Homo sapiens: one gene and its partner. The protein of the gene in region 1 purifies or fractionates together with the protein of each later gene. This does not show direct contact. Each region holds a gene or a part of one and is shown on either strand. Other genes may lie near its edges.

Evidence for each region. The genes of interacting proteins can lie anywhere in the genome.
Region 2: the proteins of CIMIP5 (region 1) and ZYG11B purify together in Homo sapiens (affinity purification with mass spectrometry; one large-scale study listed by BioGRID and IntAct). This does not show direct contact.

The regions. Positions count from the first base shown.
Region 1 is NC_000002.12:11,138,487-11,143,926, forward strand, and holds part of CIMIP5 (ciliary microtubule inner protein 5), read left to right. Parts: intron 1-2,023; coding exon 2,024-2,063; intron 2,064-5,433; coding exon 5,434-5,440.
Region 2 is NC_000001.11:52,812,645-52,818,084, forward strand, and holds part of ZYG11B (protein zyg-11 homolog B), read left to right. Parts: intron 1-891; coding exon 892-1,089; intron 1,090-1,215; coding exon 1,216-1,268; intron 1,269-3,887; coding exon 3,888-3,985; intron 3,986-5,440. UniProt on the Homo sapiens protein: Serves as substrate adapter subunit in the E3 ubiquitin ligase complex ZYG11B-CUL2-Elongin BC. Acts to target substrates bearing N-terminal degrons for proteasomal degradation with the first four residues of substrates being the key recognition elements.

The DNA.
Region 1 (5,440 bases):
TAATAGAAAGTCGATAGATAAGTTTAAATTTTAAAAAATATTAAGAAACAGCAGTGGATATGGTGTGGATCTGTGTCCCCACCCAAATCGCATGTTGAATAGTAATCCCCAGTTTTGGAGGTGGGGCCCGGTGGAAGGCGATTGGATCATGCGGGTGGCTTCTCATAAATGGTTTATACCATCCCCATGGTACTGTCCTCACAGTAGTGAGTTCTCACCAGATCTGGTTCTTTTAAAGTGTGTGGCACTTCCCTTCTCTCTCCTTTGCTCCTGCTCTGGCCATGTGACCTGCCTGCTGCCACTTTGCCTTCCACCATGATTGTAAGTTTCCTGAGACCACCCCAGAAGCTAAGCAGATGCCAGCATCCTGCTTCCTGTACAGCCTGTGGAACTGTTAGCCAATTACACCTTCTTTTTTTTATTTTTATTTTTATTTATTTTTATTTTTTGAGACAGAGTCTCACTCTGTCACCCAGGCTGGAGTGCAGTGGCTTGATCTCTGCTCACTGTAACCTCCACCTCCTGGGCTCAAGCGATTCTCCTGCCTCAGCCTCCCTAGTAGCTGGTATTACAGGCGCCCGCCACCATGCCCGGCTAATTTTTGTATTTTTGGTGGAGACAGGGTTTCACCATGTTGGCCAGGCTGGTCTCGAACTCCTGACCTCAGGTGATCCACCCACCTTAGCTTCCCAAAGTGCTGGGATTACAGGCGTGAGCCACCGCACCTGTCCTACACCTTCTTTATAAATTACCCAGTCTCAGGTATTATTTATAGCAAGGCAAGAATGGCATAATACAGCAGTAGAATCCTATTATTTCAAAATATGGATGCAAAGGCCTGAAGAAACAGCTAAAAGGCTGGCAAAGGTTTGACTCTAGGATGTGGGGCTCAGGGGCTGTGAGGATGGGGACAGAGAAGGCTGTTTTTATTATGTTTTGTAGAATTGTTTGACTTTTTAAGATTAGATTCAAATAAAACTAAATGGCCAGTGCAAGCTAATACTATCCTTATGGTCCCTCCCTTTTCCTACCTCTCCCTAGCCTTCCTCTATCACTCACATTGGAAAGTTACAAAGGTTTGGGGATGTGAAAACTTTTTTCTTCAGAGAATGCTTGCCTACTGTAGCCTTCTGAAATGCACAGAGGCAGGGCGAGATGGTAGCCTTTGCTTTCCTTAGGCAGCCCCACCATAGTGACATCATATTTGTCGTTCTAGGAAAAGTCATTGGAAATTGAAATGTTTGTTCCTTTGGTAGGATACACCATAAATACCTGCTTGACACTTGGCATTTGTTTCACTTAAAAATTATTTTGTTCTGGCTGGGCACAGTGGCTCATGCCTGTAATCCCAGCACTTTGGGAGGCCAAGGTGGGTGGACCACCTGAGGTCAGGAATTCAAGACCAGCCTGACCAATATGGTGAAACCCCATCTACACTAATAATACAAAAATTAGCCGGGTGTGGTGGCATGCACCTGTAGTCCCAGCTACTTGGGAGGCTGAGACAGGGGAATTGCTTGAACCTGGGAGGCAGAGGTTGCAGTGAGCTGAGATTATGCCACTGCACTTCAGCCTAGGTGACAGAGCGAGACTCCCTCTCAAAAAAAAAAAAAAAAAAAGGCTGGGCGTGGTGGCTCACGCCTGTAATCCCAGCACTTTGGGAGGCCGAGGCGGGCGGATCACAAGGTCAGGAGATCGAGACCACGGTGAAACCCCATCTCTACTAAAAATACAAAAAATTAGCCAGGCGCGGTGGCGGGTGCCTGTAGTCCCAGCTACTCGGGAGGCTGAGGCAGGAGAATGGCGTGAACCCGGGAGGCGGAGCTTGCAGGGAGCCAAGATTGCGCCACGGCACTCCAGCCTGGGTGACAGAGTGAGCCTCCGTCTTAAAAAAAAAAAAAAAAAAAAAAAATTATTTAGTTCTTCCACGTGATACATTGTTGCATTGACTTGACACAGTGAAAGTCATTGGTAAAAATGTCCTGGAAGGAACTCACACAGCCAACATGTTTTTCCTTTCCAGGATTCAGAACTGGAGTTTCCTGAAAGACTATGACCCAATGGTAAGGTAAAATATGTTCCTGCCAAACATACTTGCAATTGAATATTACTCATTCTTTCCATCATTCAACTAACATTTATTGAAGATCTACTCTACACCAGATACTGGATGTGCAGCGATGAGTCAAATACACTCTTGTTTCAAGGAATGCAGGGTCCGTTGGATAGAAAACAGTTACATGAAGCATTTAGAAATGTGTTTCCCTCAGTGTTTCTTAATTTTATTAAGATGAACCAATTGGAAATGACAGGCATCTGTTGCTGAAATGTCTCCCCTGATTGAGGATGGCAGCAATATGTAGTCATATCTGTGTGGCGTGCCCGAGAAGGACAATGAGATTGGGTAAAAATACTTTGTAAACAAATTCCCTGACTCTGGTATCACCACCTCCAATCCATCCTCCACATTGCCACCAGACTAATTTCCCTAAACGGCAGAACTGGCCATGTAGCTCCCCTGATTAAAATGCTTCAGTAAGTCTGAAATTTTCAGGTGGCTTACAAAGCCTCCTGTGATCTAAACCATCTATCTCCCCAGCCTCATTACCCACCCCACACAGACCCCACAACACACTTTTTTTTTTTTTTTTTTTTTTTTTGAGATGGAGTCTTGCTCTGTCGCCCAGGCTGGAGTGCAGTGGTGCAATCTTGGCTCACTGCAATCTCCACCTCCTGGATTCTAGTGATTCTCCTGCCTCAGCCTCCTGAGTAGCTGAGATTATAGGTGCACACCACCATGCCTGGCTAATATTTGTATTTTTAGTAGAGAGGGGGTTTCACTATGTTAGCCAGGCTGGTCTCGAACTCCTGACCTCAATTAGCCAACTGCCTCGGCTTCCCAAAGTGCTGGGATTACAGGCATGAGCCACCACACCCAGCCCCCACAACACTCTTTTATCTATGCCTTTGGGCATGCTCGTCCCCTGCTGGAATGTCCTTCCACCTGGTCAGCCTGATGGACTCCTATTCACTCTTCAAGATCCTGCTCTAGTGCCCCCTCTTCTAGGGAATCTCACCTTCCTGGGCAGGCTTGACCAGATCACTCCTTCCTTTGATTCACCAGCATATCTCACCCGTTATTTTGGTATTCCATGTAATGTAATACTGCAATGCCCAATTTCACCAGCTGTGAACTCCTTAAGAGAAAGGATGAGGCCAGGAATGGTGGCCCATGCCTGTACTTGGGGAGGCTGAGGTGGGAGGATCACCTGGACCCATGAGTTCAAGACCAGCCTGGGCAACATAGGGAGACCCTGTCTCTACAAAAATAACATTATTTTTTAAAAAGAGAAAAGATGAATATGAATTCATCACTGCACCCTATCACAACCCTAGCATTTGCCCCATCCCCCAGAGACCATAAAAGAGTGAACATTCAGTTCATGCTGGATGAATGAATGAATGGAAAGATGGATCTCACTACAAAAAGGATGATCAGCTGGATGCGGTGGCTCACGCCTGTAATCTCAACACTTTGGGAGGCCGAGGCAGGTGGATCACCTGAGGTTGGGAGTTCAAGACCAGCCTGACCAACATGGAGAAACCCCATCTCTACTAAAAATACAAAAATTAGCCGGGTGTGCTGGTGCATGCCTGTAATTCCAGCTACTCGGGAGGCTGAGGCAGGAGAATAGCTTGAACCTGGGAGGCAGAGGTTGCAGTGAGCAGAGATCACGCCATTGCACTCCAGCCTGGGCAACAAGAGCAAAATTCAGTCTCAAAAAAAAAAAAAAAAAAAAAGATGGTCAAAGAACCAACCTGGAAGATGAGCAATATGGAAAGTCACTCGAGGGGGTGGCCATGCTTACCTGGACCCTGCCAGGTTGAGGAAAGTTTTAATGCCTGCATTGTGGACCTGCTGGACTTGTTGCTGTCTATTCTGGAGGGAAAATTCAGCTCATGGGACCTGATATCCCGACCTGTGCATCTGGTCTGGGCTTCCAGCCTGTAAGAGTCTCTCCCTGCTAAGGGCTACATGATAGCAACCTGACTACTGAAATCTGCATCATGGCCAAAGGGTGGAGCCACCTCGGCATGGACTTTGCCAGGTGAAAACCATGATCTCCTTACTTGACAGGTCATGTCATTTCTATTAGACACAGGGTAGCAGAAAGGTAACCCTAAACAGGGGCAGGAAGAGCTGAGGATGTTTTCCCACTTGTCAGATTTTTTTTTTTTTTTTTTTTTTTTGAGATACGGTCTCACTCTGTTGCCCAGGCTGGAGTGAAGTAGCATGATCATGGCTCACTGCAGCCTCAACCTCCTGGGCTCTAGTGATCCTCCCACCTCAGCCTCCTGAGTAGCTGGGGCTTACATGCACGTGCCCCCACACCCAACTAATTTTTGTATTTTTTTGTAGAGACGGGGTCTCACCATGTTGCCCAGGCTGGTCTGAATCTTTCCGCCAAGGCTTCTCAAAGTGCCAGGATTAAAGGCAAGAGCCATGGTGCCTGGCCATCAGATTACATTTAGTCATTCATTCATGCATGCATCCGTTACAGAGTTTACCCAAACGCACGTTCACATATGGCCAAAACAGCACTACTCATAAAAGCCCCAAACTAGAATCAACCCAAGTGTGATCAGTGGTGATACAGGTGAATAACTTGTGTGATATTCACACAGTTCACACCATGGAGTACAGTTCACACCATGGAGTACAGTTCACACCATGGAGTAACGTACAGCACTGAGAATGAATGAACGGCAGCCACACTCCAAAGCTGAATGAATCTCACACACATAATGTTGAGAGAAAGAAGCCAGACAGAAGAGCCATGATTCCACTAATGTAAAGTTCAAAACCAGGCAAAGCTAATGCGTGGCATTAGAGGTCAAGGTCAGGGTGCCTTGGGAGCAGAGACAGGGGCTGAGGGGCTGAAAGGAGGTGGGGGAGGGGATCATACCCCTTGATCTGGTTGGGCACATGGGCATCTTCACTTTGTGAACATTTGTCAAGCTGGACAGTGATGGCTTGTGCGTTTTCTGTGTGAATGTTATACTCTTAAGTACAAATTTACCAAAAAAAAAAAAAAAAATCAAAACCTCCCACCAGATGTAAAGTGGCATCTTAGTCCTGGGGATAGAAAGGGGAATAAGACCTGATCCTTCCCTTGATCTCTGCAGGTCGCAGCATGAAAGTTAAGGGATCTGGGAGGCACCTGGGGAAGGGGAAGTGGAGGAAGAGGAGGGACAAGCTTGGCAGAGGCTGTGGCATCGGGTCACTCTTGGGGGATCCCAAGTCCAAACCAGGATTGAATCACCTGGAGATGCTTCACAAAGAGAGGCAGCTGCTCTCTGCTCTGTTTTCTCCCATTCTAAGGTCCTCCTTTTTCCACGCTCTGTGTGACCCGAGCTGTCCCCTCTCCTCAGGGCAACA
Region 2 (5,440 bases), on another chromosome or scaffold:
TCTGCCTGCCTCAGCCTCCCAAAGTGATGGGATTACAGGCATGAACCACCATGCTTGGCTGTTTTGGGTTTGTTTGTTTGTTTGTTTGTTTGTTTGTTTTGAGATGGCATCTCACTCTGTCTCCCAGGCTGGAGTGCAGTGGTGGGATCTCAGCTCACTGTAACCTCTGCCTCCCGGGTTTAGGTGACTCTCGTGCCTCAGCCTCCCAAGTAGCTGAGATTACAGGCATGCACCACCACACCTGGCTAATTTTTGTGTATTTAGTAGAGACGGGCTTTCTCCATGTTGGCCAGGCTTGTCTTAAACTCCCAACCTCTCAGGTATGAGCCACCACACCCAGCCCTATTTATTTGTTTTGTTAGAGTGGCGTCTTATCAGACTTTACCCTACGGTTCATATATAATTTAGCCCTACTACTATCAAATACTTTGCTTATTATAAGGTCTCTTGAGTCTGGCTAGTGGAAATGTGAACTACTCCTATCCCTGTGTGACTTTAGGATTTATTCATATACTACTTTCTGGTAGTTCTTTCCCTAGCCTCCTGGAGTTTCACCCTTGTCATTACTGAGCCAGAGATTTGGGGTACAGGTCATGTGTGCTCTGTCTCTGAGTGTGGAGCTTTGTCCTTTCCAGCACTCTGTTCTACAGAGTTTTGCTGCTTGACCACCCTAAACTATGATCTCTGTTTCAACAAAACTGCTACTTTGTCTTTGGCTTACTCTTACCTTCATTGCAGTCTGTAAACTGCCCTCATTTGAATACTTTCTCTCAGGGAAATACTTTTCTTTCACCTTCCTGAATTGCCTGTTATCCAGGGCCTAAAAACAGTTATCTTAACCATTTACTATACATATTACATTAATTTTTATATTTTCTTTTTTTTTTCCAGAACAATATAGCTGAAGTACAAGAATTACATTCTGAATTAATGTGGAAAGATTTTATAGACCACATCAGTAGTCTCCTACACAGTGTGGAAGTGGAAGTCAGTTACTTTGCAGCTGGAATTATTGCCCATTTAATATCCAGAGGTGAACAAGCTTGGACATTGAGTCGTAGCCAGAGGAATTCTCTGCTGGATGATTTGGTAGGGTCATTCCATACCAACAAAAGACATTCATAGTGGTTAAACTATCAAAGCCTCATAATGTAGTAAATAATGCAGTGCTAAATAAATATTGTAATCCTTTCTTGTGTGTCTTTTGTCTTCCAGCATTCAGCTATTTTGAAATGGCCAACTCCAGAGTGTGAGATGGTAGCATACAGGTAATTAGTATCATAATTAACAGTAAACCAGCAACCTAGTCTAGAGATCATTCCTAAGAGTCATTCCTACTAGATGCATAATTTTTCCCTCAGGCACCTCAATATTGGTTATTTATTTATTTATTTTGAGACAGAGTTTCACTCCGTCGCCATGGCTGGAGTGCAGTGCATGATCTTGGCTCACTGCAACCTCCACCTCCCAGGTTGAAGCAATTCCCCTGCCTCAGCCTCCCGAGTAGCTGGGATTATAGGCGCCCACGACCACGCCCCGCTAATTTTTGTATTTTTAGTAGAGACGAGGTTTCACCATGTTGGCCAGGCTGGTCTTGAACTCCTGACCTCAGGTGATCTGCCTGCCTGGGCCCCCCTAAGTGCTGGGATTACAGGCGTGAGCCACCACACCCAGCCAAAAGTATTGGCTTTAAAAGAAGCAAAGTATTTTGACTTTTTTCTACCACCTATCACTCTTCATGTTTCCTTCATTTCACATTTGTTGAAGACAAGTGCTAGGAATTTGTTCTATGCTCTTGAAATACAAAAATGAACAAAGACATGGTGTCTGCACACAAGAATTTTATATCCTTGTGAGGGAGAGTGAATGTGGATCAGATAAAATACCGTTATGCCAAATGTCCATAGAATGTTATGAAATTAAAGGTGAAGCCCAGTGGGGTAGCACATACCTGTAGTCCTGGGAGGATCACTTGAGCCCAGGAGTTTGAGGCTGCAGTGAGTTATGATTGCATCACTGCATTCCAGCCTGAGTGACAGAGCAAGACTCCAAATGTAAATACACACACACACACACACACACACACACCTTTCAGAGGAAGTGAGTTGTGACCTGAGTGTTGAAAGATAAGGAGAGGCAGGAGATTTTTAGGAAGAAAAAGCATCGTATTAATGTAGGAAGGTCTAAAATAAAATGACACATTGAAGGAATTAGAAGTAGCACCAGATTTGGGCCAGGCATTGTGGCTCATGCCTATAATCCCAGCACTTTGGGAGGCTGAGGTGGGTGGATCACTTCAATCCAGGAGTTCGAGACCAGCTTGGCCAACATGTTGAAACCCCTGTCTCTACTGAAAGAACAAAGTTAGTGGGGCATGGTGGTGCACACCTGTAATTCCAGCTACTTGGGAGGCTGAGGCATGAGAATCGCTTGAACTTGGGAGGTGGAGGTTGCAGTGAGCTGAGATGGCGCCACTGCACTGCAGCCTGGGTGACAGAATGAGACTCTCAAAAAAGGAATAACACTAGATTTGGTTGGGGAAACAGTTTGTAATAATTTATTAAAGGGCATACTGGGCCTGGCATGGTGGCTCACACCTATAATCCCAACACTTTGAGAGACTGAGGTGGTAGTATCACTTGAGTTCAGGAGTTGCAGACTAGCCTAGGCATCATAGTGAGACCTCATCTCTACTAAAAAATAAAAAAACCTGGGCATGATGGCATACACCTGTAGTCCCACCACTTCGGAAGGCCAAGGCAGGTAGATCACTTGAGCTCAGCCTGAGCAACATAGTGAGACCCCGTCTCTACAAAAAATAAAAAATTAGCCAGTTGTGGTGGCACATCCCTGTAGTCCAAGCTGCTTGGGAGGCTAAGGTGGGAGAATCGCTTGAGCCTGGAAGGTTGAGGCTGCAATGAGTTGAGATCGCCTTACTGCACTCCAGCCTGAGCAACAGAGTGAGACCCTGTCTCAAATAAATAAATAAATGTAAAAATAAATAAATAGGCCGGGCATGGTGGCTCATGCCTGTAATCCCAGCACTTTGGGAGGCCGAGGCGGGCAGATCACGAGGTCAGGAGATCGAGACTATCCTGGCTAACGTGGTGAAACCCCGTCTCTACTAAAAATACAAAAAAATTAGCCGGGCGTGGTGGCAGGCGCCTGTAGTCCCAGCTACTTGGGAGGCTGAGGCAGGAGAATGCCGTGAACCCAGGAGGCGGAGGTTGCAGTGAGCTGAGATCGCGCCACTGCACTCCAGCCTGGGCGACAGAGCGAGACTCCGTATCAAAATAAATAAATAAATAAATAACAAAAATTAAGAAGTGCATACTGGATGCCTAACTCTGTTTGTAATTAGATAACTTGATAATTAAATTACTAATTACCTGAAGTATTTAATTTTTATTCAACTTATTTTTTTTGTTTGGTTCATAAATGCTGATGTTGCCAACATTTTTTTTATTTCTCCAACTTATGTTCCACCTATTTTTATTCAGACCAGTAGAAAATAGAAGGGATAATTATACATCTTTTTCATAGTGTTCTACTAGTTAGTTATCACCTAATTTCTCTATTTCTTAGTTTCCAAACCAAGATCTACTTATCTTCAAATGTGTATCTTTAAGACTAAAAAGTGCTTTTGGAAAAATTTTTTCTCTTTCACTACCATGTTCTAATCACCTTCCATCTTCTGTACTGAGTCATGTCTGAATGCAGTCTTCTCTGAAATGGTTAAGACAAAGAAATGATATTCTATAGCTCATTTATATTAGTCTAAATATAATAGGATAAAATTTTGAAAATGAAAAGTTTAGGAATCACTGCTTTAGGAAATTACGCTAAATATGGGATGTAACTTTGATTCTTTTCTTTTGAACCTTTAGGTCCTTTAATCCATTTTTCCCATTACTTGGCTGTTTCACAACACCAGGAGTTCAGCTATGGGCAGTTTGGGCCATGCAACATGTCTGCAGCAAGAATCGTATGTACCAAAAAAAAAGAACTGTGTTTTTTTTCTTTAAGTGAAATTCTCATTTCCCAGGAAAGATATTTCTAAATTGTGTATTAAAGTGATTTTTAAGAACACTGACTTAAAATGTAAGGCCATCTTAGGTTATAAACTTAAGGTATTCTTTTTTTTTTTTTTTTTTTTTTTTTGAGACGAAGTCTCGCTCTTGTTCCCCAGGCTGGAGTACAGTGGCGCGATCTCGGCTCACTGGAACCTCCGCCTCCTGGGTTCAAGCGATTCTCCTGCCTCAGCCTCCCGAGTAGCTGAGATATCAGGCACCTGCCACCATGCCCGGCTAATTTTTGTATTATTATTATTTTTTTTTAGTAGAGACGGGGTTTCACCATGTTGGCCAGGCTGGTCTCAAACTCCTGACCTCAGGTGATCCGCCCGCCTAAGCCTCCCAAAGTGCTGGGATTACAGGCATAAGCCACTGTGCCCGGCCAACTTAAGGTATTCTTTCAGAATGAGCATGGTGTAACTAGACACTGAATAATAGTGGTGAATGAGACACTGTTCTCACCTCAAGGAATTTAAAGATTAGGAGACTACAGTGAGTCCATTTGTTGAGTAAAAGGTCTTAAGTAGATCCACTGTTTATGGTACATTCCGGTGCCCAATTCTCATTCACCCAAAATTCTGTTGTTCAAGATGTCGCTGCCAGCACCCATGGTTTCTGAAGAAGCAAAGTGTTTGAATCAGGTTCTATATTATTCTTTGAAAGCTACGATGTAACTCTTATTTATTTATTTAGAGACAAGGTCTGTCTCTATCACTGGAGCTGGAGTGCAGTGGCATAGTAACAGCTCACTGCAACCTTGACGTCCAGGCTCAGATGATCCTCCTGCCTCAGCTTGTAGCTAGGACTACAAGTGCACGTCACCATACCTGGCTTTTTTTTGTATTTTTTGTAGAGATGGGGTTTCATCATGTTGGCCAGGCTGGTGTCAAACTCCTAGGCTCGAACGATCTGCCTGCCTCTTCCTCCCAAAGTGCTGGCATTACAGGCGTCAGCCATCAAGCGTGGCCTAATTATTTATTAATATAAACTCATTCCACAAATGATTTGACACAAGAAATACACAGAACCACTTTAATAGTAAAGTGTGTATATATATGTGTATATATATATATATATATATATATATATATATATATATTTTTTTTTTTTTTTTTTTTTTTTTTTTTTTTTTTTTTTTGAGATGGAGTCTCACTTTGTCACCCAGGCTGGAGTGCAGTGGTGCGATCTCGGCTCACCACACCCTCCACCTCCCAGGTTCAAGCGATTCTCTTGCCTCAACCTCCAGAGTAGCTGGGACTATAGGCCTGCACCACCACACCTGGCTAATTTTCGTATTTTTAGTAGAGACAGGGTTTCACCATTTTGGCTGGGCTGATCTTGAACCCCTGACCTCAGGTGATCCACCG